Regions from separate parts of the Homo sapiens genome. Here regions 2, 3 and 4 are each linked to region 1. The links come from fine-mapping of genetic effects on gene expression. A gene starts in region 1. Each other region holds a variant in brackets. All regions are shown on one strand. Distances are from middle to middle.

Region 1 (8,107 bases):
CAGGTGGGAGTCCAAAATCCCACATTTATTGTTTAATAAAAATGGATATTGACATCTAAATCTCAGAATTAGATAGATTTGGGGCTCTAGAGCCAGATTGTGTGGGTTTAAATCCCAGCTCCAACCCTCACTAACTGGGAGATCTGGCGCGAGTTATTTAATCCCTCTGAGACTCAGTTCCCTCCTTTGTAAAGTGGGACAATAATGGTACTTCCTCACAGGATTGTTGTGAAGATTAAATGAATTAACATATGGAAAGCATTTAGTTACTGGCATGTGGTGAGTTCTCACTCAAGATTAGCGATTATCTTTACTGTTAACCACACATTACCAGGTGGCCCAGGGACTCCTGCATGACTCCCCATGGGGACTTGCCTCCAGAAAACTTACTGCAAGGAGGGCAGAGAGCAGAAGCCATGCTTCTTGCAGGCAGCTTGCTTCCCAGAGAAAGACAGAAGCCAAGAACTGGGCTTTACAGGTCAAGTTCTCTTTACAAACCCACCATGGGAAGGAGACAGGCCAGGAGTGTGGTGCAATTGAACCTTCCACCCCATGGAATGAAACACGACCTGCCCTCCCATCCCCAACCTATCCCTAGTATATTGGGCACCAGCATCCCAGAAGCCCTGTTCTAGAACCCATTCTATTCTGCCCTGGGATCTGTCATCAAGAAAACTTGCCTTAACAGTTGAGAAGTGTTGAATAATTTGTTTGCTTTCTGATCCTAGAAATAGATCATATAAGGAAAGTCTAGAGGAACCAGATTGTTTGCCCTGGAAACTCAATGCATGATGTTCCCGAGTAGAGGAAGAAAGTCTGTGAGGTAGCACTGGTGAGTAAGAGAAGAGATTACAGGTGAGCTGGGAACAGTCGGCCAGAGCCTGTTTTCTTTTAAGAGGGAAAGGCTGAAAGTGCAGCATGCTATTTTAACTAGAATTATAGTTGGCCAGGAATAATTCTCCCTTTATCATTATTATCATTATCACTGTAATTATAATAAATAATACTTGATGGTCGAAAAAAAATTCAGATTGGTTTCCAAAGGTTCTGTGCCTTAGACAGTAAAAGCAGGAAGGCCTTTACTCACCTGTGTGGTGCTTCTCCTGATAGGACACAGTCTTTTCAGACTGCATAGGGCTGGCAAAGGTCACTACATCTGAAGAAGTTTATGGAGAACTGATGTCTCCAAGAAGTGCTTTACAGTCAGAAAGTTCTGGAGTCATTTCAGTTTTTCAGTTCCAAGTCAACTTGTGTGGCTGTAGATAAGTCATTTGCCCTTTCTGGGCCTTAATCACCTATAAAGCAAGGACACTGGAGCACCTCTCCAAGAATCATTCCAACTCTGACCATCTCTAATTTTATATTTCTCATTTATGCTAGTGAACCCAATGGGCAGTGTTCCTGTGATCTTAACCCCAGGGGAACATGTGGGCATTTTATCCAAGAGTGGCCTTTGTTATCTGGTCCTTTAGTGACTCAAACAGTGGAAAATCCAGGATCTTTGTTGTTGGTGATGGTGGTGGTGGGGGCACAATTTAGAACAGACAAGTCTTCTGCACCCCTCATTTCAAACATGGACACTGCCCAATCTAGTACCTAGAGCATAACAGGCCCTTAAAGAATTTTTATTAATTTGTAAGTCTCGCTTGAAGACTCAAGTCCACCAATGATTTCACTGAAAACAGTATTTGTAGGTTTTAATTTTCCCCATTCTGAGAAAGAGCTTTTATTTTTTTAAACTTTTTTTATAGAGATAGGGTCTCACTATGTTGCCCAGGCTGGTCTCCAACTCCTGAGCTCAATTGATGCTCCCACCTCTGCCTCCCAAAGTGCTAGGATTACAGGCATGAGCCTCCATGTCTGGCCCAAGAAAGGGCTTTTAGGAACTCCCTGCCTGGGAACGCAGGCCTATCCTGTCTCACTGGTCAAGGCCCTTGGGCGTGGGTTTTCACTCACCAGCATCAGCTGAGTACCCACTATGGGACTGGCCTGAGCTTGGTGAGGGGGCCTCAAAGATGAACAGGAAGGATTTCTGCTCTCAGTGAGAGGAAATCAGTCATGAGAAAGATTGAAGGAAGTGACACCTGAGCAGAGGTTCAGATAGGAACAAAAAAGGCATGTCAGGCAGACAGACAGCATGAGCAAAGGCCTCCGGTGTGAGAAGACTTGGAACTACAGAGCAGCTAAATGTCCAAGCACTGCTGGTGTGTCAGGATCTGGGGAAAGAGGATGGACATGGGCCTGGACAGGTAGGCAGGGACCAGCTGAGAAGGGCCTATGGCTTGGCTAAGGAGTTTGGACTTGTCCTGAAGGCAGTGGGGGCCGAGAGAGGGATGTCACTGAAGATATTTCAGCAGGGGGTTGTGACATGTCCAACTACTCTGATAGCAGAGTAGTGTTATCTTCTAAACTGAAGGCCTTCAGGACAGTTATGGGCCTTACCATAGAACCAAGAAGAGCCCCTATGGAATATACAGGGTTGTCTAGTACTCCACCTCAGGTTTGTTGTTGTTATTGTTGTTGTTTGAGACTGGGTCTCACTCCTGTCACCCAGCCTGGAGTGCAGTGGCATGATCTCGGCTCACTGCTGCCTCAACTCCCCGAGTTCAAGTGATCTTCCCACCTCAGCCTCTGAGTAGCTAGGACCACAGGCATGTGCCACCATGCCTGGATAATTTTTTGAATTTTTAGTACAAAAGAGATAGGTTTTCACCCTGTTGCCCAGGCTGGTCTCTAACTCTTGGGCTCAAGCAATCCTCCAGCCTGGGCCTTCCAAAATGCTGGGTTTATAGGCATGAGCCACCATGCCTGGCCCACCTTAGGTTAAAGAAAACCATGGCTAATCAATAGTATTGGGTCTCAGCTTGTCATCATTTCCTCAGAGAGGGTTTGTCTCCCTGGACCAGGTTAGCTCTCCTTGCCACATGATCCTGTGGCACCCAGAACATCGTCTCCTGACAATGTCACTCTTGTTCAATGCCCATCTTCCCTTCAGGACCCTAGGTTCCAAGACAGCTGGAATTTTGGTCTTTCTTACTCACTGCTGTCCCCCCAGTTGCTTGCCCAGTGCTGGCACTAGTAGATGCTCAATAAATATTTCTCGAATTAAGAACAAGAGTCACACTGGAGGGATGATCAGAGAGGTGAGCCAGGGGAATGTGATTTCCCTCCTGGCGATCACTGTAAATGAAACCCAGAGGCTGGGAGAGTTTCCTAAAACAGAAAGTTTTAATCCGGGCTCTGTCATGTGCCCACTAGATATATTTCACTCTAGTGTGCCTTGACTCCTCACTTATGAGGTGAGGTAGGTGGACAAAAGCGATTGCTAGGTCTCTCTCTCTTTAACCCCAACATTTTATGCATGAAAAAATATTCCTTGCCTATGACTCTTCTCTTTCTAGGGTTTCTGTGTTTCAGAAAGATATGGCCATTGGTAAATTAAAGAAGAATAACATCATGATTTTAGCCAGAGAAACTGAAATAATCTTACAAAGATGAATAATATTTAAAACGAACAGGTACATCTGGGCTGTCTGGAATTTGTTCTGAGAAAGGAATATTTATTTTTACAGGATGAATTAAACTGAGTTCCACCCACTTTTATAAAAAGCAAGATTTTTTTTTTTTTTTCAGAGAGAAAGAGCCAGAGCATAAGAATCAGCCCCACCTCCTGCGCTCTCCCTCTGGATTTTGCTGAGATTTGGTGAAATATCTGAGACCTGTTCCTCTCCTCCCTGCTTCACACTTAAAGACAGAGCCCAGCAGAGCTGCTGCCAGGATCCTTCCCCCAGTGCCCATGTGCACAGCTGAGCTGCCGGAGGTGCTGAGTGAGAGGACTCCTCCGTGGGGGGAAAACCCAGCCAGCAAGCAGGAAGCTACTCACCGGAGGTCTCTTCCAGACGAACTGGATGGGGAACTTCTGGCTATAAAAGAGAGAGGTCTCATCCGGTGGGAACTCAGGGTCCACATAAAGAACTTTCTTTTCTAGACATTTCTTGTGAAGTTGCTCGAATGTCTTCTCTTTCACTCCGATAATAGGAAAATTGCGGCTGATGATGGCTGAATAGATGCCACTTGGGTTTCCACCCCCAGCCTCAGTGGCCTTGCTCTGGGCCGGGTGAGGAACTGGCCCTGGGGACCGGGGCTCAGCCGCTGTCCTTGGAGCCACAGATGCGCTAATGACGGTCGGCATGGCAAGTGGCTTTGGAAGAAAAAGCTTTTTAAAGAAAATAAGATACAGCTACCTTCAAGGAAAGGAAGCAACTGCAAAGGGGAAGTTGGAGTAATTCTGTCATCTGAGAGAAAAGTGTCCACATCCAGTTCAAAGTTGAAAGCCCATCAGAAGGTCGTACAGGTTATGTCCATCTTAAAAACCGAGCTGTGATTCTGAAGCCATAAGTTCTCCTGAGAAATGAGTGCTAAAGGATTTCTGAAGCAATGTTGACTTGGGGGTCTCCTACCAGCAGCATGCATGCCAGAGGGAGAGAGAAAGAGAGTGAGGGTTGTGTTTCAGTGGCCTGAAGATGCTTGAGCCAGGAAAACTAAAAATAGATGTGAAGAAACACTGTGAGTATGAGAGCAAGAGAGACTGCATGGTAGAGAGAGAACCTGGCTAGGGACATTTCTGTTGCCATGAAGTGCTGGTGTTGCCAGAAAATGAAAAGGGAGTATCTGAGTAAGGTGAACACTGGAAAGAAGCTGAGAACTGCTGACATGTTATTGAGTAGGCAGTTATACAGACCACCCAACTACTGGCCATCAAATGAATGGAAAACAATATTGCAAAAAAGCTAGTTAGGGTGAACGGGAGGTACTGAATTCTACAAAAATATTCTGTGAATTTTAGAGAACATGATTTTTAGTCCTAAAATTTTAGGATATCAGAACATTATTCAATGTTAGATTTGGTATCTTTTTTAGAATGTTCTTGGGTCAGCGCTCATTGGAAATGTCTGCATGGAAAATGCTACTCAGCAGAGTCCTCATTTGAGAAAATCCCTGTCTCTACCTGCACACTTGACCTTGCCACCTCTTGTCTCTCCCCATCCACAAAATGAACACTGGGACTGAATCTGCTAAAAAGTGGTCCTGCTGGGCCATGTGGCTCACGTCTCTAATCTCTGCACTTTGGGAGGCCGAGGCGGGTGGATCACATGAGGTCAGGAGTTCGAGACCAGCATGGCCAACAATAGTGAAACCCTGTCTCTACTAAAAATACAAAAATAAGCCGGGTGTGGCGGCGGGTGCCTGTAATCCCAGCTACTTGGGAGGCTGAGACAGAAGAATTGCTTGAACCCAGGAGGCAGAGGTTGTAGTGAACCCAGATCACGCCACTGCACTCCAGCCCAGGTGACAGAAAGAGACTCCGTCTTAAAAAAAAAAAAAAGTGCACCTGAGCAGAGAAAATCCTCACTTAACATCATCGATAGGTTCTCGTAAGCTGTGACTTTAAGCAAAATGATGTACTGTATAGTGAAACCAGGCTAACTGATATAAACAAGAGTTAAGTCCCTACAGCACACGGTATGTTTTCGTTAAAGTCACAGTTTACAAGCACCTATCAATGATGTTAAGTGAGGACTTACTGTACAGGTTATATGTTGACTCATTCAGCCATGCCACATTAGGCATCTGAGACAGAAGTTGGAATTAGATACTGAACCAGACTGTCTGTCAACTCCTGGGATGTCACACCTGGTTTCAGGGCTCTTAGATGAGAGCATAAGTGGCTCTGGGGAAGGGAAGTGCCTGCCTGGCCTCCACCTTGTCTTCTACCCACAATAGCTGCTCCCTGGGCTGTAAGGAGATGAGCACATTTCAAGTATGGCAGAGTGGAGGCATGTCCTAGGCTGCAGTCATGCCTGTTCCCATGCGACCAGTCTCAATAATCCAAGATTAGAGGCTATGGAAGAAGGTGGGAAGTGACAGGTAAAATAGGGAGTACTATCAGCCTCCTGATCCCTGGGATTGCGGCTTTGAAGGACTCTATGTCTGGGCTTGCAGGAACCATCAGCCTAGCCATCTGTCCCTCCAAGAAAATGCCCAGGGCTTTTTACTAGTCTTGGAGAGGCAGAATAGAGGACAGTGGTCTCTGGTGACTGACCACCTCGGTTCAAAGTCTAGGTTGGCCCCTTATTGGCTGTGCCTGTGTAACTTTAGGTGAGTTATTTCTTCCTTTCTGTCTCAGATTTCTCACCTATAAAATAGGTACAATTACAGTCATTCTGTTATTAGGTTTTGGTAACAATTAAATAATTTATGTAATACATTTTACACAGTGCCAGGATTTTCTTAAGCACTCAATAAATGGTGTTGTTAGAGAAGACCTGAATTTAATATTACTTTGGAGTTAGATCAGGTCGAATGCTACATTTACTCGCTGACGCAAATCAGCATCCACTCAATGGGCATTAACTGAATATCTGCTATGTGGACAGCACAGGAATAGGTATAATCTGCCCAGGCTCATGTGGTATGCAGCATCTCCAATCAGAAGCTGGCCTATCTGCCTGCAACAAAAAGACTGACTTCCACCCTCAAAGTCACCAGTGGCATAGACAGCAAAGGTGGGGTTTCTTTCCCCCACTGTCATAAGTTTGGGTCCCAGCCTAGCATTCTATCCCACCCTGAAATTCAGAGCACTGACCCACACTGTATTGTTTTTGCTTATTTAACTTCCCGTTTGCCCATAAGACCGTGGAGCTGGGAAGTGGGTTCCCATTTCCCTCTCAGGTTTAGAAGGCCCTTAATAAATGCGTGTTATATATCTGGTGAATGAAATTTTCCTATGCAAAGAGAAATTTCTTACACTTCTGGCTTTGCCAGTGCAATCAAAGTTTCTCTGCTGATCTGCTCCAGGCGAAGGAGCTGTCTTGGGCCGCATACCCACTGAGCTTTCTTTCCTCAGCTGTCTCAGCCAGCACCATCTGTGAGTAACTAACAGAAGTGTGTGACACCAGCGAGCCTCTTGTCAGAGCAGGGTGGGCATATCAAACACAGAAAGGGCAAGGTGCCATTCATTTTGCTCTGTCAGTTGTTGTGGATAAAACATTCTCTCAGATGAACAGGTCCAAACTCAAGGTTTATTCAATGGCACAGCTGTGGAAACCAATGCTATCAGGGAGAAGTCCAACTCGAGCCCATGAACAAAGGGCAGATAATGAACACATAAACAACTGCACATTTCAATTCCCAGAAGCCCCTTCAAGGATAAAGAACTAGTTTTTATAACATATTTCACCCACGGTCATGTAATATCTGTGGCTGGAATGGTTTCTGCTGCACAGCATTGCCAACTAATGGCTCTGTCTTTTCCACCAAGAAGCATTTCTTTGATTACTAACACTATTGGAAGCAATGTCTTTGCTTATCATTATAATACCTCTCATTCATTAAGTGCCTACTGGGAGCTAGCCACTTCACAGAGACCTTTAAAAAACTTTTTATTTTAAAATAATTTTAGACTTACAAAAGACTTGCAAAGACTTACAAAAGAGTTGCAAAGATAGTGTCCTCCAGTCTCTGATCATTCCACAGTCTTTGTCTCTCATGACCGTGACACTTTTGAAGAGTACTTGTCAGGTTTTTGTAGAATGACCCTAAATTTGGGTTTCTCTGATATTTTTCACATGATTAGACTGAGGTTATGGATTTAGGGGAAGACTGTCACAGATGTGACATGGCTACCTCCTCAAACCATATTTGGGGGCACATGATATTGATAGGTTTTATTACAGGTGATGTCAACTTTGATCACTTGCCTAAAGTGATGTTTACTGGGTTTCTCCCTGGTAATGTTACTATTTTTCCCTTTCTGTACACATAAGATATTTTAAATTTGTAGAAAAACTCTGCAAGTTTCACTAAGTCCATTTTACAACTGAGGAAACTTGAGATATCTGCTGTATTTTGACAGTTAAGTATCAGAAAACTCACAAAATTTTAGAGATTATCTCTCTTTTTTTTTTTTTAGATGGAGTCTCTCTCTGTCACCAGGCTGGAGTGCACTGGTGCAATCTTAGCTCACTGCAACTTCCGCCTCCCGGGTTCAAGCGATTCTCCTGCCTCAGTCTCCTGAACAGCTGAGATTACAGGCATGTGCCACCAT
Region 2 (8,107 bases), 150 kb after region 1:
TTTTTTGTTTTTTGATAATGACCATCCTAACAGGTGTGACGTGACACCTTGTGGTTTTGGTTTGTATTTCTCTGATGATTAGTGATGATGAGCATTTTTTTTATATACCTGTCAGCCATTTGGAAGCCCTCTTTTGAGAAATGTCTCTTCCAGTCCCTGGCCCAGTTTTTAATCAAGTTAGTTGATTTTTTGCTGTTGAATTGTAGGGGTTTCTTATATATTTTGGATATTAACCCTGATCAGATACAGTCCTATGCCACATTTCAGTCAGCAACGGACCACATATATGACAGTGGTCCCATAAGAACCTCCGGGTTCACGCCATTCTCCTGCCTCAGCCTCCCAAGTAGCTGGGACTACAGGCGCCCGCCACCACGCCCGGCAAATTTTTTGCATTTTTTTAGTAGAGACGGGGTTTCACCGTGTTAGCCAGGATGGTCTCGGTCTCCTGACCTTGTGATCCACCCACCTCAGCCTCCCAAAATGCTGGGATTACAGGCGTGAGCCACCGCACCTGGCCAATACTGAATTTTTACTGTACCTTTTCAATGTTTAGATAACTTTAGATACCCAAATACTTACCATTGTATTCCAGTTGCCTTTGGTATTCAGTACAGTAACATGCTGTACAGGTTTTTAGCCTAGAGCAATAGGCTTATACATATAGCCGAGGTATGTAGTAGGCTATATAACATCTAGATTTGTGTAAGTATATTCTGTGAAGTTCACACAGCTATGAAATTGCCTAATGATGCAGTTCTCAGAATGTATCCCTATCATTAAGTATACGTGACTGTATGTAGTATGCAAATATTTTCTCCAATTCTGTAGGTTGCTTTTCATTCTGTTGTGTGCTTCCCTTGCTGTGCAGAAGCTTTTTAGTTTGATGTAGTCCCATTGGTCTGTTTTGCTCTTGTTTTGTGCTTTTGGTGTCTTAGACAAGAAATCACTGCTAAGACCAATTTCAAGAAACTTAGGTTGTCTTCTAGGAGTTTTGTGGTTTCAAATCTTATGTCTAATTCTTTAATCTATTTTGACTTGTCTAAGTCTTTAATCTATTTTGAGTTGATTTTTGTGTATAGTGAAGATGAGTTACTTTCATTCTTTCTCATGTGAATATCTAGTTTTTCCAGCACCATTTGTTGAGGAAACTGTCAGTTTCCCCACTGTGTAGTGTTGTCTCTCTTTTCGAAGATCAGTTGACCATGTATGTGTAGTTTTATTTCTGGGCTTTCTATTTTGTTCCACTTGGTCATAGTATGTGATTCTTTCAACGTGCCGTTAAATTCTGTTTTCCATTGTTTCATTGAAGATTTTTGCGTCTGCTCATCAGGGATATTGGCCTGTCGTTTCTCTTCTTGTCATGTCTTTGGCTTTGGCATTAGGGTAATGCTGGCCTCATAGAATAAGTTTGGAAGTTCCTTCCAAATAAATGTTTTCGTCTTTAATTTTTTTGAAAGCGTTTAAGAAGGATTAGTGTTACTTTGTCTTTAAGTACCTGGTAGGACTCAACTAAAGAAGCCATCTGGTCCTGGGCTGTTTTTTTGTTGGGATGTTTTTGATTACTGATGGAATCTTGTTGTAGGTCTTACCAGGTTGTGTGTTCCCCCCCCGGATTTTCTATTCCTTGATGATTCAGTCTTGGTAGATTGTATACTTCTAGGAATTATATATTTTGTTCTAGGTTATCCAGTTTCTTGGCATATTTTTAAAAATGTTTTGTATATTTTTATTGAAATTCTTACTTTGTTCATGCATTGTTCTCCTGAGTTCGTTGAACATCTTCATGATAGTTGTTTTGCATTCTCTTTCAAATAATTCCTATACCTCTGTTTCACTGGGGTTGGTTTCCAGAGATTTATCTTCTTCCTTTGTTTGGGCCATGTTTCACTGATTCTCTATTTTCCTTAATTCTTTGTGTTGGTTTCATTGCATTAGAAAAAAAAACAGTTACCTTTCCAGTGTTCATGGACTGGCATTGTACAGGAGAACACCCTCATCAATCATTCTGATAGCCTCTCTAACCCACTCTGTATTATGTCTTTTCTGGACTTCTGCATATGTATTCCCAATCAGAGGGATTTGCTGGGTTTTTCCCTCCCCAGGAATTTATAATCTCTTGCTCCCTTTTGTGTTTATCTGCTGTATCATGGGTCTCCTGGAGCCAGTGGCATAGCCCAGCTCTTTTTTTGTTCATACTGGCCCCAGGCACCTAAAATATACTGGTCCCATCTGTGCTTCAAACCATTCCCTACAGAAACCATTCCCTCAGGTAACCTCTTACAAAGTTGGAACATTTTCACAGTCCATCTCTCCTCCCTAGGGAAAAGCTAGGATTTGGGGATGTTGGGGATTCTACCTGCTTACTCTGCACTGAGCTGGGGGAGCGGCTGTAGTGAGCTCATGCTTGCTAGTCCAAACTTCCACTTTGATTTCAGCAACTTCCAACCTGGGCCCTTTGTTTTTAGCTCTCGGACTCAGGCAAGACAGAAAACAGTCTCTCGTGCAGGTTCCAGAAAAGTCAGAATGTTGGATGTACATTCCAGTCATTTCCTTCCCTCTGCAAAAAGAAGCTGGGAGCTGAGGGTTTCCTCTCTATCATGTGGTACTGTGCTGGGTCCATGGGAAGGGAAGAATTATGGCAAGAGGGTGCCTCAGGTTTTTCTGCCGACTTTGATTCAGCTGGTTTCATGCTTTCCTATAGTGCAGAAGACCCTCAACTGGTTTCTGGATTTCCCACAAAGGGAATTTTTCCATGTGTTATTGAATCAGTGTGTCTGTAGAGGGAAGGAGTGTCCAGGGCTTCCTATTCTGTCATCTTGCTGACATCACTTTCTCCAAGGCCTTTTTTTCCCTTAAAACTGAAAAAGACCTTAAATGAATTACAGGAGAAACAATTTACATGATGGACCAGGAATCAAAATGGCATAAGGCTCTTCAACAACATCTTTGGGAGCCAGAACAAAGCCTTTGAATTCTGAGGAAAATCATTTTCAACCTAGAATTCTGTACTCAACTAAACTATCATTATGAGGGTAAAATAAAGATGTTTCTAGTCACACAAGAAGTAAAATAATTGATGTTCTATATGCAGTTTCTGAAGAAAGTAGGGGAAAATGTTCTCCACAAAAATGAGGAAGCTAGGAAAAAGACTTGGGATCTAGGAAATAAAGGGTCCAACACAGAGACAAGAAAAATTCCCAGTATGATGTAAGAAATTCTCAGGTTGGCAGCTGGGCACCAGGCTTGGATGGAGTGGAGAACAGAGAGCATCGGAAAGGATATTTTTAAGAAAAAGGGAAACATCTATAGATTATCTGATGTGATTGATTATATTCAAAAAGGATTTGTAGTTCTGTCAGTTTGTGATACAATAGTGAGAGGTACTTCGCAAATGAAGCAAAAGAAAAATGAAAATTAACTCTAAGGTATAAAATTGCCTAAGAAGGGAAATTTAAGGGTAGTACATTAATTATTTTAATTGAAATGGGATACTGTAAATACTATATTAAATTAAATGTAATTTTATTTTTTACATGATTTTTAAAAAGTGTAGTAAAAAACACATAACAAATCAACCCTCCTAACCATTCTAAAGTGCAAAGTGCTAACTAGGTGCACGTCTTTGCCCTCATCCTTCACTGGGTCTTCAAGTGAAATTCCTGAATTAGAGGAGTTACACATTTTTATTAAAGCCTAATCTTATGTAAATATTTGTTTACATAAGATCTTAGCTGACTCTATACATTTCCTTCTGAGTGCTGATTTTCTGTCCAGAAGCCTAGAGCTTTTGATTTAGTTGTTCTTGGGTGAGGTCTGGACATCTGTATGTTCAAAATCTTCACAAATGTTTAGGAACCATTTCTCTAAACATTTAATTAACATAAAGTACTCGTGGAAGATGTTTGCTTGGATAGTCTGTATAGAAGATATTTGGAATATAGATCATTTTAACCTAATATACTTCAACCTTTTTTTTTTTCCCTAGGAACGAATGATCACACACTTTGAAAGGTCCAAAATGGAGTAAGGAATGGGAAGATTTGCAGTTAAAGATGGCTACCATCAGGGAAGAGATCAGCATCTGTGTCAGTCTTCTGTACGGCTCCATGGGATTAAAGGAAGCAATGACATCCTGATCTGTTCCTTGATCTTTGGGCATTGGAGTTGGCGAGAGGTGTCAGAACAAAGAGAACATCTTACTGAAAACAAGTTCATAAGATGAGAAAAATCTACGAGCTTCTTATTTACAACACT[G/A]CTGCCCCCTTTCCTCCCAGACTCTGACATGGATGTTCATGCAACTTAAGTGTGTTGTTCCTGAACTTTCTGTAATGTTTCATTTTTTAAATCTGACAAACTAAAAAGTTTAACGTCTTCTAAAAGATTGTCATCAACACCATAATATGTAATCTCCAGGAGCAACTGCCTGTAATTTTTATTTATTTAGGGAGTTACATAGGTGATGGGGGAAATTGTTAACTACCTTTCATTTTCCTGGGAAGTCAAGGTTACATCTTGCAGAGGTTGTTTTGAGAAAAAAGGGCCCTTCTGAGTTAAGGAGCCATAGTTCTATCAATGATCAAAAGAAAAAAAAAAAAAGAGAAACTGTTACAGTATGATTCAGATCATTTAAAAAAGCAAAATCAAGTGCAATTTTGTTTACAAATGGTGTATATTAAAGATTTTTCTATTTCAGATGTACTTTAAAGAGAAATATTAGCTTAACTCTTTTGACATCTGCTATTGTGACACATCCCATTGCTGGCAATGTGGTGCACACTCCGAAACTTTTAACTACTGTTTTGTAAGCCTCCAAGGGTGGCATTGCAGGGTCCTTAGGCAATGTTTTGTTTGCCTTTATGCAGAGAGGTGCTCCAAGTGCTGTGATTGAGCACCGTGCTAGAGGAACTGTAATGCTTCAGAAGTTGTAGCTTATACAAAGGAAACAGGTCCTGCTGGCTTAATTTAAACAGTTATTGCATGAAGTAGCGTGGAGGCCCTGGACTGCTGCTCGTTCTTTAGGATGGACTGTTCTGGTATCTGGTATTGGTTTAGAGACTGTTAATAAGGGACATCACAAGGTGATGGGATTCATTTGAAGCACTCTATTTCTGTTTTAATGGTTTTATCCAATTTTGCCTTCCCAAGATTTTTGTTCTACATAAAAAGTTCATGCCACTTTTTAATATAAAAAAATTTAACAAAATTAATGTATTTTTCTCATTTTTTTCAAACTTTTTCTAAAGACTCTTTCTGTCAAACTCATGAAAAATTTCTTTCTATGGCTTTTATTCTAGATTGTCTTATTTTCTGTTAAAACCAATGACCACATGACCACAATCTTCACTAACTCATACTGCAGTGAAAGTGTTAACCCTTAGGTAGTTTCTCTACAACTCTTTGCTATGGTGATTTTTAAAAAAGTTTCCTAGGAAGTATCTCTGAGGAACAGCAATCTGAAGAACTGACTATATTCTCATGCTAAGTCATTAGCCAAAAGCTGGTGGTATTGTTGCATGCTGCTATTGCATATTAAAACGTAGCAGATGAATAATAGTTGTAATGCAGCAGGATAGTTGGTCAAATTATTTTTTTAGGCTGCTTTGATGTTGACTTGAGACTAGGAAAAAAAAAAGCCCATTGTGTTAAGCGGGAGTGTATAGTTCAAGTTCTATAGCCTGGGCCCTGATAATTCTACTTACAGCTTTCTGTATTACTGGGAATAGATATAGTGTGTCATTTCTTAGGTTCAGAAGAAATTGATAGCTTTGCAGTAATCTGTAAAACAATATAAACCTTAGGGTTTTGGGCCTGAACGAAAAGGTACTAGACCTTCCAGCACAACAGCTGGTAATTCTAAATTTTTAAGAAGGTGATCAGCTTCTATGGTGAAAATCAGCTATAACACAGGATTTGTGTAGCAATTTTCATGTTTTTGACTACTTGAAAGTACTTTTCACTTGATTATCAGAACAGCATTTGGTAAAGATGGGACAAGTATTCCTAATTTACATATGAAGAAACTGATATTGTGTAAAAATAAAATGACCAGGACCAGTTTTTTTGACTTCATATCACAGACTTACCCTTTTTCTTTTACATTTTTGCTTTAAACCCAAATGCTTAATTTTTTGACCTACGATGTTTTCCTAGGGGGAAATGACCAGATATAGATCATTCTTGCAGCCCAAACTTTGTTGTTTTTTAAGTCTTCAAGGGGAATACTAAGGTAACCGCAGACAGTACAGGTCCCAGGTCCTATAGGAGGAAAAGCCATGACACCTTCCTAAAGGAATATTAGGATGTAAGACACAGCTTTGGAAAGTTGAATTGGTAGGAATGTGGTCATCAAATTAAAAGGAGGCTTATTTCACTGACTTCCAAGAGTTAGTGAATCATCTCTTGCCTAAACTCTTGCTACTCAAAATGTGATCCAGGGACCAGCAACATCTGGGAGATTTTTGGTGCTCAACTGAGGGTCTTACTCTGGTCCTACTGAATCAAAAGAGGCATTTTAACAATGTCTCTAGGTGATTTGTATGCACGTTAAATTTGAAAAGCATTGGCCTCAAATGGTGGTTCTCAGGGTAATTTTGCCTCCCAGAGGACATACGGAAAAGAGACATTTTTATACCTCTGTGGGGAAGATAACTGGCATTTGGTGGGTGGAAGTTAGGGATGCTGTTAAACATCTTACATTGTACAGAACATGCCCCCTCCCCCAACAAGAAATTATCCTGTCCTAAATGCCGGTAGTGCTATCGCTGAACAACCCTAACCTAAAATGGTGGTTCTCAAGCTTTTAAGTGCATGGACTCACCTTGGGGTTTATTAAAACATAGGTTGCTGTTCCCTTCGAGTTTCAGATTCAGTAGAACTGGAATGGGCCTGAAACTTTGCATTTCTAACAAGTTCACAGGTGCTGCTGCTACTGCTGTTGTTGCTGGTCTAGAACCACTTTCAGAACCACTGGCCTAGAACAACCATGAAAGCATTAAGGTAAGGTGCTTGTACTAATTGGGATATAATGGTAATACTAAAGCTACCACTTACTGAGAGCTTAGTGGGTGTCAGGTGTTGCTAAGCGCTCACGACACTAGGTCACAGGTATTTACAAAAATTTTGCAGATTAGGAAAGTATGGCATCGAAATATTAAATTTTCTAAATCACAGCTAATTTCCTAATTGGTAGATCTCCGTCTGAGGTCGACGCCAAAGGCCGAGTTTTTAACCATCACGCCCACTGCCTAAAGCAGTTCTAAGATTAAGAGTTTGTTCCTTCTATGGTAAGCCCATGGCTACTCGGGATGGAGTAGCTATGGGTCCAGAGTGACGATGGCAACTCAGCAACAAAACAATTCATTTAGAGTGCACCGGGAGGAAGGGGCGGGACTTCGGCTGCGGAAGAGGCGGGCCTAACTAGCAGGAAGTCCGGGGTTGACGATGGCTGTGTTGTTGAAGGGCCTGTAGCCGGGGGGTTCCTGGCCGGATCCCGGTCTACCCTTAGCCCAGACTCGTTCCGGACCCCAGCCCGGCCCGGAACACTCTGGGCGAGACGGCGGTGGCAACTCTCCCCTTGCCGCCATGCACGACGCTTTCGAGCCAGTGCCGATCCTAGAAAAGCTGCCTCTGCAAATCGACTGTCTGGCTGCCTGGGGTGAGCCGAGGGGCCGCGGGGCCGAGGCGGAGTCAGCACAGGAGCGGTCCGGATCTTTTCTGAGGCCGGGGAAGTGGACAGGCGTCCATCCGTGTGGGCTTCGGTTGGATGCTACACGAGAGGGGCTTAGGATGAGAGAAGGCAGAGAGATGACCACCGGCTATAGACATCGATGTCTGTGGGGCTACTTGGGTGATCCCAGTGATCCAGTCATTTAGGGGAGTTCCCCTTGCTTTTGCTCTCTGTGCAGAGTGGGAGGATGAGCTTTCCTTTTTAGTTGTGCTCAGCTTTGGCCCATTTTGATTCCCACGAAGACTTCATTTTAGAGGGTCAAAGCAGTAAGAAGTTCTCAGCCTGCCAGGGGCTTGAAGTTGTCCAGATGTTTGTGTTGTTTTCTAGATGAAAGTCAACCCTGGTTTTGGGGGCATTGAACAAGTTAACACCATATGC
Region 3 (8,107 bases), 270 kb before region 1:
ATTTAGACCAGGTGTGGTGGCTCACCCCTGTAATCCCAGCACTTTGGGAGGCCGAGGTGGGTGGATCACTTGAGCTCAGGAGTTAGAGACAAGCCTGGGCAACCTGCGGAGACCCTGTCTCTACTAAAAATACAAAAAAATTAGCCAGGCATGGTGGCGTGTGCCTATGGTCTCAGCTAATCGGGAGGCTAAGGTGGGAGGATCACTTGAACCCAGGAGGCAGAGGCTGCAATGAGCTGAGATCGTGCCACTGCACTCCAGCTTGGGTAACAGAGTGAGACCCCATCTCAAAAACAAAACAAAACAACAAAAACAACAACAGCAAAAAAACACATTTAGAAAGAGGTAGTTTCTTTTCCCATCTTGTATCCAGTGCTAACTTGTACTCGGTTAAGGGCTTTATACTTTTCGTTTAGTGGCCAATTTCTTTTTTTTTTTTTAATTATTATTTTTTTGAAATGGAGTTTCACTCTTGTTGCCCAGGCTGGAGTGCAATGGCATGATCTCGGCTCACTGCAACCTCCATCTCCCGAGTTCAAGGAATTCTCCTGCCTCAGCTTCCCAAGTAGATGGGAGTACAGGCACCCACCACCACACCTGGCTAATTTGTATTTTTAGTAGAGATGGGGTTTCACCACGTTGGCCAGGCTGGTCTTGAACTCCTGAGCTCAGGTGATCCGCCTGCCTTAGCCTCCCAAAGTACTGGGATTATAGGTGTGAGCCAACATGCCCAGCCCCAATTCTTCTTTTAATGTCAAATACTATGAAATCACACTAAACACAGGACAAAGCGAGCAATGAGCTAGGCCCAAGGCATCAGGGATAATCATCTAAGAGGAATCATGTCCTATAGAATGTCCCTGTGTAGTGTTTATTTGTTACCCACCTAACAGGACATATATACTTTTAGAGACAGGGTCTCTTTTTATTTATTTTTTTGAGACAAAGTCTCGTCCCATTTCCCAGGCTGGAGTGCAATGGCACAATCTCAGCTCACCGCAACCTCTCCCTCCTGGGTTCAAGCGATTCTCATGCCTCAGCCTCCCAAGTAGCTGGGATTACAGGCGCACGCCACCATGTCTGGCTAATTTTTGTATTTTTAGTAAAGACTTGGTTTCACCATATTGGCCAGGCTGGCCTCGAACTCCTGACCTTGTGATCTGCCCGCCTCAGCCTCCCAAAGTGCTGGTATTACAGGAATGAGCCACCCCACCCAGCTGAGACAGGGTCTCTTACTCTGTTGCCCAGGGTGGAGTACAGTGGCAAGATCATGGCTAATCACTGCAGCCTCAACCTCCCAGGCTGAAGCCATCCTCCCACCTCAGCCTCCTAAGTAGCTGGGACCACAGGATGTGCCCCCACACCCAGCTAACTTTTGTATTTTTTGTAGAGATGGAGTCTCCCTATGTTGCCTAGACTGTTCTCAAATTCCTGGGCTTAAGAGATCTTTCTGCCTCAGCCACCCCAAAGTGTTGAGATTATAGGTGTGAGCTACTACACCTGGCACCCTGACCAGGATATTTCTAAACCCAAAACAAAAAGGTATTCTTAAGCAACTCTGCCCTCCTGATTTTCTGTGATAAAGGAAGCCTCTCATTAAATCCTGCATACTTTTGAAAGCCCCTGACTCAGGAGCTAGTTCTCCTGCTTTCTTCCAACACACAGATCTAACACATGTAGGCTTGGAGCTTGGCCACAATAATCAAATCTCTGCACAGCTCTAGCATGCACTTAAGATTTAGTCCAGGTCTTGTCCACAACAAAGGTGCAAAACAGATCCAAATAATGAACCTGGAGATAAGTAGAAATTCAGCAGGACTGACAAGAACTGCTTTGTCAAAGGGAGCTGTAAAATTCTAAGGCTCTTCAGGGTTTAATAAAGAGGGGTTAAGGCCGGGCATGGTGGCTCATGCCTGTAATCCCAGCACTTTGGGAGGCCGAGGCGGGCAGATCACGAGATGAGGAGATTGAGACCATCCTGGCTAACACGGTGAAACCCCGTCTCTACTAAAAATACAAAAACTTAGCCAAGCGTGGTGGCGGGTGCCTGTAGTCCCAGCTACTCTGGAGGCTGAGGCAGGAGAATAGCGTGAACCCGGGAGGCGGAGCTTGCAGTGAACTGAAATTGCGCCACTGCACTCCAGCCTCGGCGACAGAGCAAGACTGCGTCTCAAAAATATATAAATAAATAAATAAGGGTTAATTATTCAAAGGTTACCTTCCAATTAAATGCTGAAAAACTCATTTTTTTTTTTTTTTGAGATGGAGTTTTGCTCTTGTTGCCCAGGCTGGAGTGCAATGGCACGATCTCAGTTCACAGCAAGCTCCGCCTCCCGGGTTCCCACCTTGTCCTCCCAAAGTGCTGGGATTACAGGCGTGAGCCACTGCGCCCAGCCGAAAAACTCATTCTTAAAACAGAAGAAGGCTCATTCAATCTTCTTTAAAGTTGACTGCCTACAGAAATCATATTCTGTCTCACAGTAGTAAGGACAATGCAAGGTTCAGGCTTGCTGTGGCATTAGGAATATATATCATTGTAATACTCACTGGGGTCCCCAGCATGGTATATGTCTTCCCAGAGCCTGTCTGTCCATAAGCAAAAAGGCATATGTTATAGCCTTTGGCAACTCCAGACAGTACTTCCATCCCTAAATCCTGGAAAACCTGTAACAACAAAAGCAGAGGAAATATCACTGTGGTCCTTCTTCTCATAGCAGATTTAGAATTATTTTCTAATCTAAAAAAATATAAAATATTTCAAACATACATGACTATTAATTCACTACCATTTCATAAGAATCAATTTAGCTTCATAAAAAGATAGCTAAGGAAAATTCATTCATTCAGCCGGTCAAATTTTTTAAGTGCCTAGTGTATCTAGACACAATACTAGACTCTGAAGATAAGATACAAAAGTAATATGGTCTCTAAACTTAAGGCAAAGAGAGTGTAGAAGAGCAAAGATATGCAAGCAAAATAATTCTGTATCTCTCGTAAGAAAACATTTAATATGGTTAATCAGGTAAAGCTGCAGTGAAATATTGCCCAATAACATACAAATTCAGGGTCTTAGGATACCATACTGAAGATCAGTAAGACCAGAAGTTAGGGAGGTGTTTTCCACATGCATTTATTTTCTACACACTCCCTCCTCAGATTGACCCTAAGAGCTGGCTGGTTCTGCTGGTCATTTACCCCTGCTTTAGTGAATCAGAAATAGGCAGAGGTCCTCATGTGAAAACTCCTGTACTTGGTATACTGCTTGGAAGTCCTACTGAGCTCTGTTAGGCAGACTCTGGTCTCAGGAAAAAATAGCCAGCTTTATGGGGAAGGCACAGCTTCCTAGTTCAGCCAGTCTTCAGCAGAATGCTACGTGGGCATCTGCATACCCACAGCTGGTACAGCGGATATTTACCCTTTGTATTGTTGCCCAGCATCAAAATACTCTTCCTTTGAATCTTTGGTTGTGTCAGTCTTGGTGGGAAGCACAGCTCAATGCTCTACTATAGAAGCCAAACAGGCCAGATATTCCTCTCCATCTAGGACAACACTAGCACATGAAATGAGGCCAGACAGGGCCAGGCGCGGTGGCTCAGGCCTGTAATTCCAACACTTTGGGAGGATGAGGTGGGTGGATCACCTGAGGTCAGGAGTTCGAGACAGGCCTGGCCAACATGGCGAAACCCTGTCTCTACTAAAAATACAAAAAATTACCCAGGCATGGTGGCGGGCACCTATAATCCCAGCTACTTGGGAAGCGGAGGCAGGAGAATCGCTTGAACCCAGGAAGCGGAAGTGCAATGAGCTGAGATCGTGCCACTGCCCTCCAGCCTAGGCGACAGAGTGAGACTCCATCTCAAAAAAAAAAAAAAAGAAAGAAAGAAACGGGGCCGGACAACTAGATGTCACTTGACAACTAGATTATCATTTGAATTTTGAAAGAAAGACATAAAAATAAAGAATAGTTAATAAATTGTCCATGCTGGCATCAAGGATCCAATAGCACTGCTGCTGGGCATACAGTGGTAGAAGTGCCAAGTGTGTGCTCAAATCAGATGATTCTGTGATATGGTTCTGCCTGGGGTCCCTGCTGCTTAGCATCCCATGCCTTCTTGCCCATTTTTCAACTTTCCCTTCAATTCTGTGACAACTCTGATACGATTCCAAGGTGTAGTGTATTCTTATACTTCAAAGCTGTGTGATCTTGGGCAAGTTACTTAAACTTTGTAAACTTCAGTTTCTTTAGGTATAAAATGTTTATTTTTGTATCTGTAATACAGGTTTGTTGTGAAGATTAAACAAAGTAATACACGTAATTAGGGACAAAGGAGCTGCTAACTCAAGACTACACTCCCTGTTCTTTTTTTTTTTTTTAATTGAGACAGGGTCTTGCTCTGTCCCCCAGGCTGGAGTGCAGTGGCACAATCTTGGCTTACCACAGCCTTGACCTCCTGGGCTCAAACGATCTCCCTACCTTGGCCCCCCAGCAGCTGGAACTACAGGTGTGCATCACCATGCCCAGCTAATTTTTTTGTATTTTTGTAGAGACAGGTCTCCCCATGTTGCCCAGACTGGTACTGAACTCCTGGACTCAAGTGATCCACGTACTTCAGCCTCCCAAAGTGCTGGGATTACAGGTGTG[C/T]GCCACTGTGTCTGGCTCTTTATTTATTTTTTTCTTGAGACATGGTCTTATCCTGTCAGCTAGGCTGAAGTGCAGTGGCACAGTCATAGCTTACTGCAGCTTCAAACTCCTGGGCTCAAGGGATCATCTCGCCTCGGCCTCTTGAGTAGCTAGGATTACAGACATTTTTATTAGTTTTCTCTTTGTTAGTTTATTTGTTTTAATAATCAGTGTTAAGTTGTCATCAGTTTAAACGAATGGGTTATTTGCAAGCCTTATGGTAACCTCAAATCAAAAAACCTACAAAAGATACACAAAAAATAAAAAGAAATTAAAACATGTCACCAGAGAAAATCACCTTCACAAAACAGGAAGACAGGAAGAAAAGAAAGAGGGAAGAAAAGACCACAAAACAACCAGAAAACAAATAACAAAATGGCAGAAGTCCTTACTCATCAATAATAACTTTGAATGTAAAGGGACTAAACTCTCCAATCAAAAGACAGAGTTAAATGGATTTAAAAAACAAGACCCAACAATCTGCTGCCTACAGGAAACACATTTCACCTATAAAGACACATATACACTGAAAACAAAGGGAGAGAAAAAGATAACCCATGCAAATGGAAACCAAAAAAGAGAAGTAGCTACATGTGTATCAGAAAAAATAGATTTCAAGACAAAAACTTAAAAGAGACAAAGGTCATTATATAATCAGAAAGGGGTCAATTCAGCAAAAGGATGTAACAATTATAAATATATATGTACCCAACACTGGATCACCCAGATATATATAAAGCAAATATTATTAGAGCTAAAGAGAGAGAGACCTCAATACCGTAATAGCTGGAGACTTCAACACCCCACTTTCAGCATTGGAAAGATCATTCAGACAGAAAATCAACAAAGAAATGTTGGACTTAATCTGCACTGTAAACCAAATGGAACTAATAGATATTTACAGAACATTTCATCCAATGGCTGCAGAATACACATTCTTCTCCTCAGCACATGGATCATTCTCAAGAATAGACCATATGTTCGGCCACAAAACACATCTTAAATAATTTAAAAAAAAAATCTTCCTGAAAGGTGGGTTAAGGAAAAAATAAATAAAAATAAATAATAAAACAATTCCAAAAAGCTGAAATCATATCAACTATCTTCTATTACCACAATGGAATAAAATTAGAAATCAATAACAAGAGGAATTTTGGAAACCATACACACACATGGAAATTAAACAACATGCTCCTGAATGACCACTAGGCCACTGAACAAAATAAGAAGAAAATTTTAAAATTTCTTTTTTTTTTTTGGAGACGGAATCTCGCTCTGTCACCCAGACTAGAGTACAATGGCGTCATCTCAGCTCACTGCAACTTCTCCCTCCCGAGTTCAAGCAATTCTCATGCCCTGGTATCCCAAGTAGCTGAGACTACCGGCGCACACCACCACGCCTGGTTTTTTTTGTATTTTAGTAGAGACAGGGTTTCACCATGTTTCCCAGGCTGGTCTTGAACTCCTGAGCTCAGGCAGTCTGCCCAACTTGGCGTCACAAAGTACTAGGACTACAGGTGTAAGCCCCATGCCTGGCCTAAATTTCTTGAAACAAATGGATACGGAAACAGAAGAAACAAATGGGATACAGTGTAAGTACTACTAAGAGAAAAGTTTACAGCAATAAGCATCTATATCAAAAAAGTAGAAAAACTTCAAATAACCTAATAATGCATCTTAAAAACTAGAAAAGTGGCCAGGCATGGTGGTCCATGTCTGTAATCCCAGCACTTTGGGAGGCCAAGGCAAGAAGATCACTTGAGCCCAGGAGTTCAAGACTAGCCTGGGCTCAAGCTCTATAAACTCTTGCAATATAGTAAGACTCCATTTCTATTTTTTTAATTAAAAAAAAAAAAGAGCTAGAAAAGTAAGAGCGAATCAAACACAAAATGAGCAGAAGAAAAAAACTTAGAGCAGAAATAAATGAAATTGAAATGAAAAAAGCAATACAAAAGATCAATAAAAATGAAAAGTTGGTATTTTGAAAAGATAAAATCGATAAGCCTTTAGACAGATGAAGAAAAAAAGAGAAGACTCACATAAATAAAATCAGAAATGAAAAAGGAAGCATTACAACTGACACTGCAGAAATCCAAAGTCCCATTAGAGACTACTATGACTATATACCAATAAATTGGAAAACCTAGAAAGAAATGGATAAATTCCTAGACACATGCAATCTACCAAAATTGAACCATGACGAAATCCAAAACCTGAATAGAACAGTAACAAGTAATGAAGCTGTAATAAAAATCTCCCAGCAAAGAAAACCCCAGAACCTGACAGCTTCACTGCTGAATTTTACCAAACATTTAAAGAACTAATACCAATCCTACTAAAACTACTCCAAAAAAATGAAAAAGGGAATACTTGCAAACTCATCTTTTAAGGCCAGTATTACCCTGATACCAAAACCACATAAAGATACATCAAAAAAAGAAAATTACAGGCTAATATCCCTGATGAACATTGATGCAAAAATCTTCAACAAAATACCAGCAAACCAAATTCAACAACATGTGAAAAAGATCATTCAGGCTGGGCGTGGTGGTTCATACCTGTAATCTCAGCACTTTGGGAGCCCGAGGCAGGGAGATCACAAGGTCAGGAGATCGAGACTATCCTGGCTAACGTGGTGAAACCTGGTCTCTACTAAAAATACAAAAAATTAGCTGAGTGTAGTGGCACGCACCTGTAGTCCCAGCTACTTGGGAGGCTGAGGCAGGAGAATCACTTGAACCCAGAAGATGGAGGTTGCGGTAAGCCAAGATTGCACCACTGCACTCCAGCCTGGGCGACAGAGTGAGACTCAGTCTCACAAAAAAAAAAAAAAAAAAAGAAAAAAAAGATCATTTATCGTGACCAAGTGGAATTTATCCTAGGGATGCAAGGATGACTCAACATATGCAAATCAATGAATGTGATACATCATGTCAACAGAATGAAGGACAAAAACCATATGATCATTTAAACTATTGTTGAAAAAGCATTTGATAAAATTCAACATCCTTTTTATGAGAAAAAAAAACCCTTGAGAAACTGGGTACACAAGGAACATACCTCAACACAATAAAAGCCATATACAAGAAGGGATCCACAGCTAGTATCAGACTGAACAGGAAAAAACTGAAAGCCTTTCCCTCTAGGATCTGGAATAAGACAACAATGCCCATTTTCACCACGGTTATTCAATGTAGAAGTCCTAGCTAGAGCAATCGGACAAGAGAAAGAAAGAAAAAGCATTCAAATTGGAAAGGAAGAAGTCAAATTATCCCTGTTTGCAGATGATATATTTGGGAAAACCTAAAGACTCCACCAAAAACCTGTTAGAACTCATAAACAAATTCAGTAAACTTGCAAGATACAAAATCAACATACAAAAATCAGTAGCATTTCTATATGTTAACAGAGAACAATCTGAAAAAG
Region 4 (8,107 bases), 78 kb before region 1:
CATCCCAGTAGTGAGACTGGGGCATTTTTATATGAGTGATATAAGCCATACTTGCTCATTAAAACTAAAATGAGCAAGTACAACTAATTTGTCACTGGAATTCTCTTCATATATACAGGAGGATTCTTTTAAAATATTTTAGAGAATGTAATTTAAATATCAGTCATTTTCTTTCATTTCCTCTAATCTAGGGTTAGAGTTGACTTTGTATTAGCACCCACAAGGTTCCATTTATTAGGATAAGTACAAAATTTGTTTCGTGTGAAATAAATGGGGTTGAAGTTAATTCAGCCAATTTTCTGAATAAGGTCTATCCTCTGAATTTCTTTGCACTTACTGTCTATATAATCTCAAATACAAACCAGGATTAATATAAGCGTGAGAGGCAGGTGGCCATGATGGGGTTTGGAATCATCTACTAAGAACTTGCTGTTGAGAAATAGCCAGGGTTTTCACTCTTTTCAAAAAATAACACTTACCTGGTTATCATTTGAGAATACGTCTAAGCTATGTAAAATCCTGTTAGAAGTTTGCATTACCACAGTGGTGCTGTATTTGAAAATTAAGTCCAACAAACTGGCATTGTGTGGTTTCCTGAGCAAAAGCAAAAAGTTTAAAAAATTACTCTAGATTTTACTACCAGTACTATGTTGCAATATTAATCTAGATGTTAGTATCAAATATATAGCTTATTTATTTATTGAGACAGAGTCTCACTCTGACACTCAGGCTGGAGTATGGTGGCATAATCACAGCTCACCACAGGCTTGACCTCCTGGGCTCAGTTGATCCTCCCACCTCATCCTCCAGAGGAGCTAGGACTACAGATGCCTGCCACCATGCCCGGCTAATTTTTTTTTTTTTTTTTTTTAAGTAGAGATGGGGATTCACCATGTTGCCCAGGCTGGTCTTGATCTCCTGGGCTCAAGTGATCCACCCGCCTTGGCCTCCCAAAGTGCTCAGATTACAGGTGTGAGCCACTGCGCGTGACTTAGCATATATATATATATATATATATATATATATATATATATATATATATATATTTTTTTTTTTTTTTTAGACAGAGTTTCGCTTTTTGTTGCCCAGGCTGGTGTGCAATGGCATGCTCTTGGCTCACGGCAACCTCTGCCTCCCAGGTTCAAGTGATTGTCCTGTCTCAGCCTCCCGAATAGCTGGGATTACAGGCGCCCACCACCATGCCCAGCTAATTTATGTATTTTTAATAGAGACAGGCTTTCACCATGTTGGCCAAGCTGGTCTTGAACTCCTGACCTCAAGTGATCCGACCGCCTCAGCCTTCCAAAGTGCTGGGATTACAGACATGAGCCACCTTGCCCAGCCCCTAGCATATTTTTAAAAATTATTTTAAATTTTTGTGGGTACATAGTAGGTGTATATATTTATGGATTACATGAAATATTTTGGTACTATTATTTTTCGTATTACATATTATTTCAATCTTTCTTAAATCATATTTTTGTGTTTACATGTAGAACTTGTACAAAGGAGCAGTCATATATAACCTGACTTTTTCCATTTAATATATAATGATTTTTCTGTTGTAAAAATAATTTATCTAAAGTATTTTATATTACAAGTTGCATAATATTTGAATAGTTGCATAATCTGGCTAAACAATAATTTATGTGGTGAATCTTTTTTGAATATTTAGTTTTCTAACTTTTTTCATATTCTGTGTAACACTGCATTGTATATGTCTTTGAGTACATCTGTGATTATTTCATCACTTTTAATTCCTAGACATGAAGTAACTAAGTCAAAGGAAATTGACATTTCTAAGTCAGCAAATTTTTTTAACTACTAAGCTGTAGCTAAATTGGATGGGTGTGGATAATGAAAACTTCAAAGAAATAAAAGTAAAAGGACTTCAGCTAAGTAGACATTTAAGTGTCTACTAAGAATAAACCACAATGTTAAATGTGTGGACATTTAAAACAAGAAAAAAGATTGATAGAAACAATCCCTCCCCACAAGGAGCTTTTGTAGGGAATAAGACACACAGTGTTTGTGAGATTCACGCAAGGCAGAGGGTAGTAAGTGTTGTCATAGGAGTGTATGTAGGTGATGGGAAACTGAGGGGTGAGATACCAGCTGAAACAGTCATGGTTTTCTGAACATATCATTGAAATATTTGGTAGAGTTTCAGTCAGTGATAAATTGCAGCAAACACAAAAAAGGATGCAATAATTTTTTTCCTCTCAATTCAGGAGAGATCAGTGACAGTTGTCCAGTTTATCCAGTCATCACTGCTAGATTGTCCTTACCAGAGTCAACAGAAAGTTTCCATGAGCCTAGCCAAGAACTGAAGTTTTCTGTGGAGCAAAGAAATACCAGAAACAGAGAAAACTCTCCCTCTTCCCAATCAGCTGGTCTTTCTAGCATAAATAAAGAAGGGGAAGAGCCAACCAAAGGCAATAGTGGGTCTGAAGCCTGTACCAGTTCTTTTCTAAGATTGTCTTTTGCTTCAGAAACCCCTTTGGAGAAGGAACCCCACTCTCCAGCTGACCAGCCTGAACAACAGGCAGAATCCACTTTGACATCAGCTGAGACTAGGGGAAGCAAGAAAAAGAAGAAACTCCGGAAGAAGAAAAGTCTACGGGCTGCCCATGTTCCTGAGAATAGTGACACTGAACAGGATGTTTTGACTGTTAAACCTGTAAGGAAAGTAAAAGCTGGAAAGTTAATTAAAGGGGGGAAAGTAACAACCTCCACTTGGGAAGACAGCAGGACTGGTCGGGAGCAGGAGAGTGTCAGAGATGAGCCAGATAGTGACTCGTCTCTGGAAGTCCTAGAAATTCCTAATCCTCAGTTAGAAGTAGTAGCCATTGATTCTTCAGAATCAGGAGAAGAGAAACCAGACAGCCCATCTAAAAAGGATATTTGGAACTCTACAGAGCAAAACCCACTAGAAACGTCTCGTTCTGGGTGTGATGAAGTTAGCTCTACCAGTGAAATTGGCACTCGCTATAAAGATGGCATCCCTGTAAGGTAAGAATATTGTATTGGTCCAGTCAGAACAACTTTCACCAACTTTATTTTTTTAAATAGAATTTGAAATTATGAATCAGAATTTCTTTAAAAACCAAACTTTATGTGAATGCAGTAGAGATTGTGGATATGGAAAAATTAAAGCTCAGCAGTAGAGATTTTCTGCTTTCTCTTTTGACTGTGTTATAAATATTCACTCTGCTTTTATTTCCCTTCATTAAGAAATTTCAGATGGAAAATCTAATCTCTTATATCATTGCTACTTTGCCCATTGTTTAGAAAAATCCTTTGAGTCAGAAATTTTTACTTTTACTACCTGCCCTGTTCACACAGATGCTGAGAACACTTTTGCTATTATTTTGTAGTGTGGCAGAAACTCAGACTGTGATCTCCTCCATAAAAGGATCAAAGAATTCTTCAGGTATTTGCTGTTCAGTTTTATTTAAGTTAACCACAGAATTAAAAGCCTTGTAAATATTAAAGCCAGGATTTAAACCTACTTAAATATATTTATAGAATAGGAGAATGGGGAGGGGTTTATCACCAAGAGGATTGCCTTGATCAACAGTTCTGATATTCTTAAAACCTCAAATCCTGGTCTTTCAGATTCTTATTCTCATCTATCTGATTGATTGACTGGTTGTAACAGAGTCTTGCTCTGTCACCTGGGCTGGAGTGCAGTGGCGCTATCTCTACTCACTGCAACTTCCACCTCCCAGGTTCAAGCAGTTCTCCTGCCTCAGCCTCCCAAATAGCTGGGACCACAGGTGCGCGCCATCACGCCTGGCAAATTTTTTTTTGTATTTTTAGTAGAGACAGGGTTTCGTCATGTTGGCCAGGCTGGTCTCGAACTCCTGGCCTCAAGTGATCCTCCTGCCTTGTCCTCCCAAAGTGCTGGGACTACAGGCGTGAGCCACCATGCCTGGCCTTTCTCATCTGTCTTATCCGGCTCCCTTATCTGTTCAACTAATTAGTATTAAGGTTTCATTGGCTCTAAGGATATTTGCTTTCAGAAGGAACTGCTTAAGGAATACTACATTACTCAAAGAAATAACTTTTTGGAAGTGTGGGAGAGATTGG[A/G]TACCTTCCAAGTATCACTCAAAGCTCTTTTTCTTTTTTTTTTTTTTTTTGAGACGGAGTCGTTGTCGCCCAGGCTGGAGTCCAGTGGTGTGATCTTGGCTCACTGCAACCTCTGCCTCTGGGTTCAAGTGATTCTCTTGCCTCAGCCTCCCCAAATAACTGGGACTACAGGCTCACGCTACCACACCTGGCTAATGTTTGTATTTTTAGTAGAGATGGGGTTTCACCATGTTGGCTAGGCTGGTCTCCAACTCCTGACCTCAGGTGATCCGTCCATTTTGGCCTCCCAAAGTGCTGGGATTACAGGTGTGAGTCACCACGCCTGGCCCAAAAGCTCATTATATAATTATCTATCTTTTTCCTAAGTGAAAGGCCTTCTCTGCCTTTGCTTATCATGCAGTCTTCATAGTGAAGATGGGTATTGAAAATTGTAGTAGTCTGATAGGGGAACTAAGATTTAAGGGATCTACTTTTGGTTTAATCTAGGGACTACTGTATTGTATAATAGTTCTGATTTTTGAGTATCTTTTCAGACTCTAGCAGACATGTCTCTGAAACCTATTCTTGTTTTCCAGAAATATCTTCAGAGCCAGGAGATGATGATGAACCCACAGAAGGAAGCTTTGAGGGACACCAAGCTGCCGTAAATGCAATTCAGATATTTGGGAACTTGCTATATACCTGTTCAGCAGATAAAACTGTTCGGGTTTATAATCTGGTGGTAAGTTGATAGAACATGTAGAATGTTTTTGGTTGCAGGTTTTGGAAAATCCAGTTTATACTTTTTTAAACAATAAAGGGAATTTGTTGGCTGTCTGAAGGAAGGGGTGGGCCTGAGATTGACTTTAGATGCATTTAATCCAGAAGCTCAGCAAGGTCACTGGGGACTTAATTTCTTTTTGTCTCCCTACTCTGCCTTCTCTGGTATCACCTCTTCCTGAAAGCTAGTTCCCCTCCTGCTTACAGGGTAAATGTCAGGAGCCACTGGAGTCTCTTTTTCCCTCCCACCAGCACAGAAGGGTCCTGTGTTTTACTCCCTGAACGATCACCTTTGCCTGTGGCAAAGGGGGTTGGGATTACACCAGTGGTCTTGGACTGTTCAGGTCCCAATGCTGGAGTTGGTAATGGGGTCACTTGCATAGCAGCTACATAATAGAGGAGGGATGAAGTGAATATGGGGAAGTACTGGAGGAGGTATTTTCCCTGACAAGTGATTGATTACAGAGTTCAAGTTATTAAGGAGAGCAACACTTTTCCACTGCCTCACACTTAGTATTATCTGATGCTTATTACTCTCAAAAGAATGAACTTTTGAGTTTTGAATTTGAATTTGTTAATAAACTAATTATGTTTATGAACAATGAAAGCTTAAGAAATTTGAAGAACATGATGTCTGAATGAATACCATGAAAATATTTAAAATTGCTAGAGTCAGTGAAAATTAAAAAGTTAGATGATGGACCAGGAAAATGTGTTTGCTATATAGGCAACAGGTGTGTAGATTCCTTTAGCTTAATGATATGAGGATTAACACGAATGACTGAAAAAAGGAAGCAGTGCTACCAGGATGTATAAGTGTAAGATCTAGGGGAACAGGATATCAAAATATGTATGTGTATGTATATATGTACATTCTAAATAGATCTCAGTATGTGCACTGAGATAACATTTGGAATGTACCCATAAGAAACACCACCAGTGGCCGGGCACAGTGGCTCACACCTATAATCCCAGCAGTTTGGGAGGCCAAGGTGGGTGGATCATGAGGTCAGGAGATTGAGACCATCCTGGCTAACATGGTGAAACCCCATCTCTACTAAAAATACAAAAAATTAGCCGGGGGTGGTGGCGGGCACCTGTAGTCCCAGCTACTTGGGAGGCTGAGGCAGGAGAATGGTGTGAACCCAGGAGGCAGAGCTTGCAGTGAGCTGAGATCGCGCCACTGCACTCCAGCCTGGGGGACAGAGCGAGACTCTGTCAAAAAAAAAAAAAAAGAAACAACACCAGAACCACTAGACCTGTGATAGCACCTGACGTTTTTGAATACCATGGTGCATTCTCACAAACTGCTTATCAAATGCTCATCTTTTGTGGGAAATTAGCTGCAGTTTGGATTTGCTAGGTCCTTGGTCCATATGTCAGAAAGCTTTGCCCTAAACGTTAATTAAAATTCTGGCTGTCTTACAGTGTTGCCATAAGTATTTTCTGGTATGGCTCAACTAACATATACTTTCAGATACCTCATTGCCTGTGACTGTTTGCTAGGCACTTGGTGAACATACATTTACTGAGCATCTTTTGTGTACCAGGTGCTGTTTTAGACATGAGGATACAGCAGTGAACTGAATGTTTTAGCATCTTTTTGTTGAGGAAATATATTATCTAATCCTCCTATATCTCATAAGTAATAATCTGGTCTGTGCTTAAACTTTAGAGTCGGAAATGTATTGGTGTCTTTGAGGGTCATACCTCCAAAGTTAACTGCCTCCTGGTTACTCAGACCTCCGGGAAGAATGCTGCCCTTTACACCGGGTCCAGTGACCATACCATCCGCTGCTATAATGTTAAGGTAGGTGGGTCCAGAGAAATCCAAAGTGGTTCATATTGAGTCGCCTTTGTATTTACTGTGTGGAGTGGAGACACTGTGGCAGACGCTTCATTCTACCCACCATCTCCTTTTTGCTTCTAAACAATGTTTAGCACATTGTTGTAGCCCTAGGTAGATATGAGACTTACACATAAACCATATTTTCTGTCTCTCTCCACCAGTATTTTTTCACTTCCTACTATTAATAATATACCTTCCTTGGTCTTTGCCATAAATGTTATGCATATCATATGTCAAAACTAATCCTAGATAGAATAAAGAGAAAAATGTAGGCCGGGCTCAGTGGCTCACGCCTCTAATCCCAGCACTTTGGGAGGCAGAGGCGGGTGGATTCACCTGAGGTTGGGAGTTTGAGACCAGCCTGACCAACATGGAGAAACCCTGTCTCTACTAAAAATACAAAATTAGCCAGGCATGGTGGTGCATGCCTGTAATTGCAGCTACTTGGGAGGCTGAGGCAGGAGAATCACTTGAACCCAGGAGGTGGAGGTTGCAGTGAGCCGAGATTGTGCCACTGCACTCCAGCCTTGGCAACAAGAGCGAAGCTCCGTCTCAGGAAAAAAAAAAAAAAAAAAAGAGCAAAATGTATAAACTTTTTAAATCTGCAGAATTAGAAATGGACATCTCCTCTGAGAGTTTTTTAAACCTAAATGCACTGAAAGACATGAGAAAATTACATTTAAAATTATATACAATATGTTTTTAATTTCTTTAAAAGATGGAGGTATGTGAAGCAGAATTTATGACTATCATTAAGTTTATAACATAGGTGGAATATATGTGATAACAGGAACATAAAGAAGGGGGAGGGAATGGAGCTGTGCTAGGACAAGGATCTTATATTTTACTGGGAATAAGTATTAATTTGAACTAGCTTGTTATAATTTTAAAAATATAATCCCTAGAGGCACTGGCTCACAACTTTAGTGTGCATCACAGTGACCTGGACAGCTTGTTAAAACACATATTACTGGTCCCCACTCCCAGAGGTGTTTTTTTTGTTTGTTTGTTTTTTGTTTTTTAAGGTACAGGGTCTCACCATGTTGCTCAGGCTGGTTTTGAACTCCTGAGGTCAGGCAGTCCTCCCACCTTGGCCTCCCAAAGTGCTGAGATTACAGGCGTGAGCCACCACATGCAGCCCTTGCCAGAGTTTCTGATCCAGTAGGCTTGTGATCAAGCTCCCAAATTTACATTTCTAGGCGAGGTACTATGGTTCATGTCTGTAATCCCAGCACTTTGGGAGGCCAGAGCAGGAGGATTGCTTGAGGCCAGGAGCTCAAGACCAACCTGGGCAACATAGCAAGACCCTGTCTCTATAAAAAATAAAAATCAGCTGGGTGTGGTGATGCACACCTATAGTCCTAGCTGTTTGGGAGGCTGAGGTGGGAGGATCACTTGAGCCCAGGA

Direction of the effects. Positions count from the first base shown, and alleles are read on the strand shown. Sizes are in standard deviations (SD) of each study's normalised expression. Not every link is listed here.
For the expression in thyroid of the gene that starts at base 4,497 in region 1, C is the low allele of the variant in region 3 and T is the other (moderate effect, 0.42 SD a copy in GTEx).

Evidence for each region. PIP is the estimated chance that this variant, and not a neighbour inherited with it, causes the effect.
Region 2: its variant is fine-mapped to the expression of CAPN3 in blood mononuclear cells (TOPMed, PIP above 0.99).
Region 3: its variant is fine-mapped to the expression of CAPN3 in thyroid (GTEx, PIP 0.97).
Region 4: its variant is fine-mapped to the expression of CAPN3 in whole blood (TOPMed, PIP 0.97).

The regions. Positions count from the first base shown.
Region 1 is chr15:42,355,891-42,363,997 of GRCh38, reverse strand. CAPN3 (calpain 3) reads right to left here and starts at 4,497. Exons shown (of 24, transcript NM_000070.3): 1 at 3,884-4,497. The coding sequence starts at 4,192. RefSeq lists enhancers at 1-542, 3,589-4,089.
Region 2 is chr15:42,207,631-42,215,737 of GRCh38, reverse strand. VPS39 (VPS39 subunit of HOPS complex) reads left to right here and starts at 7,434. Exons shown (of 25, transcript NM_015289.5): 1 at 7,434-7,657. The coding sequence starts at 7,585. TMEM87A (transmembrane protein 87A) reads left to right here. Exons shown (of 20, transcript NM_015497.5): 20 at 3,989-5,291. The coding sequence ends at 4,030. It overlaps VPS39-DT (VPS39 divergent transcript), which reads right to left and starts at 7,337. Exons shown (of 3, transcript XR_932181.3): 1 at 7,054-7,337; 2 at 6,821-6,974. The variant G/A (reference allele first, on the strand shown) is at 4,258.
Region 3 is chr15:42,629,413-42,637,519 of GRCh38, reverse strand. It overlaps STARD9 (StAR related lipid transfer domain containing 9), which reads right to left. Exons shown (of 33, transcript NM_020759.3): 4 at 2,548-2,664. Among named protein-coding and RNA genes, the nearest start is that of STARD9, 58 kb to the right of the region's middle. The variant C/T (reference allele first, on the strand shown) is at 4,643.
Region 4 is chr15:42,433,938-42,442,044 of GRCh38, reverse strand. It overlaps ZNF106 (zinc finger protein 106), which reads left to right. Exons shown (of 22, transcript NM_001366845.3): 11 at 2,232-3,012; 12 at 3,378-3,433; 13 at 4,668-4,813; 14 at 6,527-6,661. Among named protein-coding and RNA genes, the nearest start is that of ZNF106, 53 kb to the left of the region's middle. The variant A/G (reference allele first, on the strand shown) is at 4,093.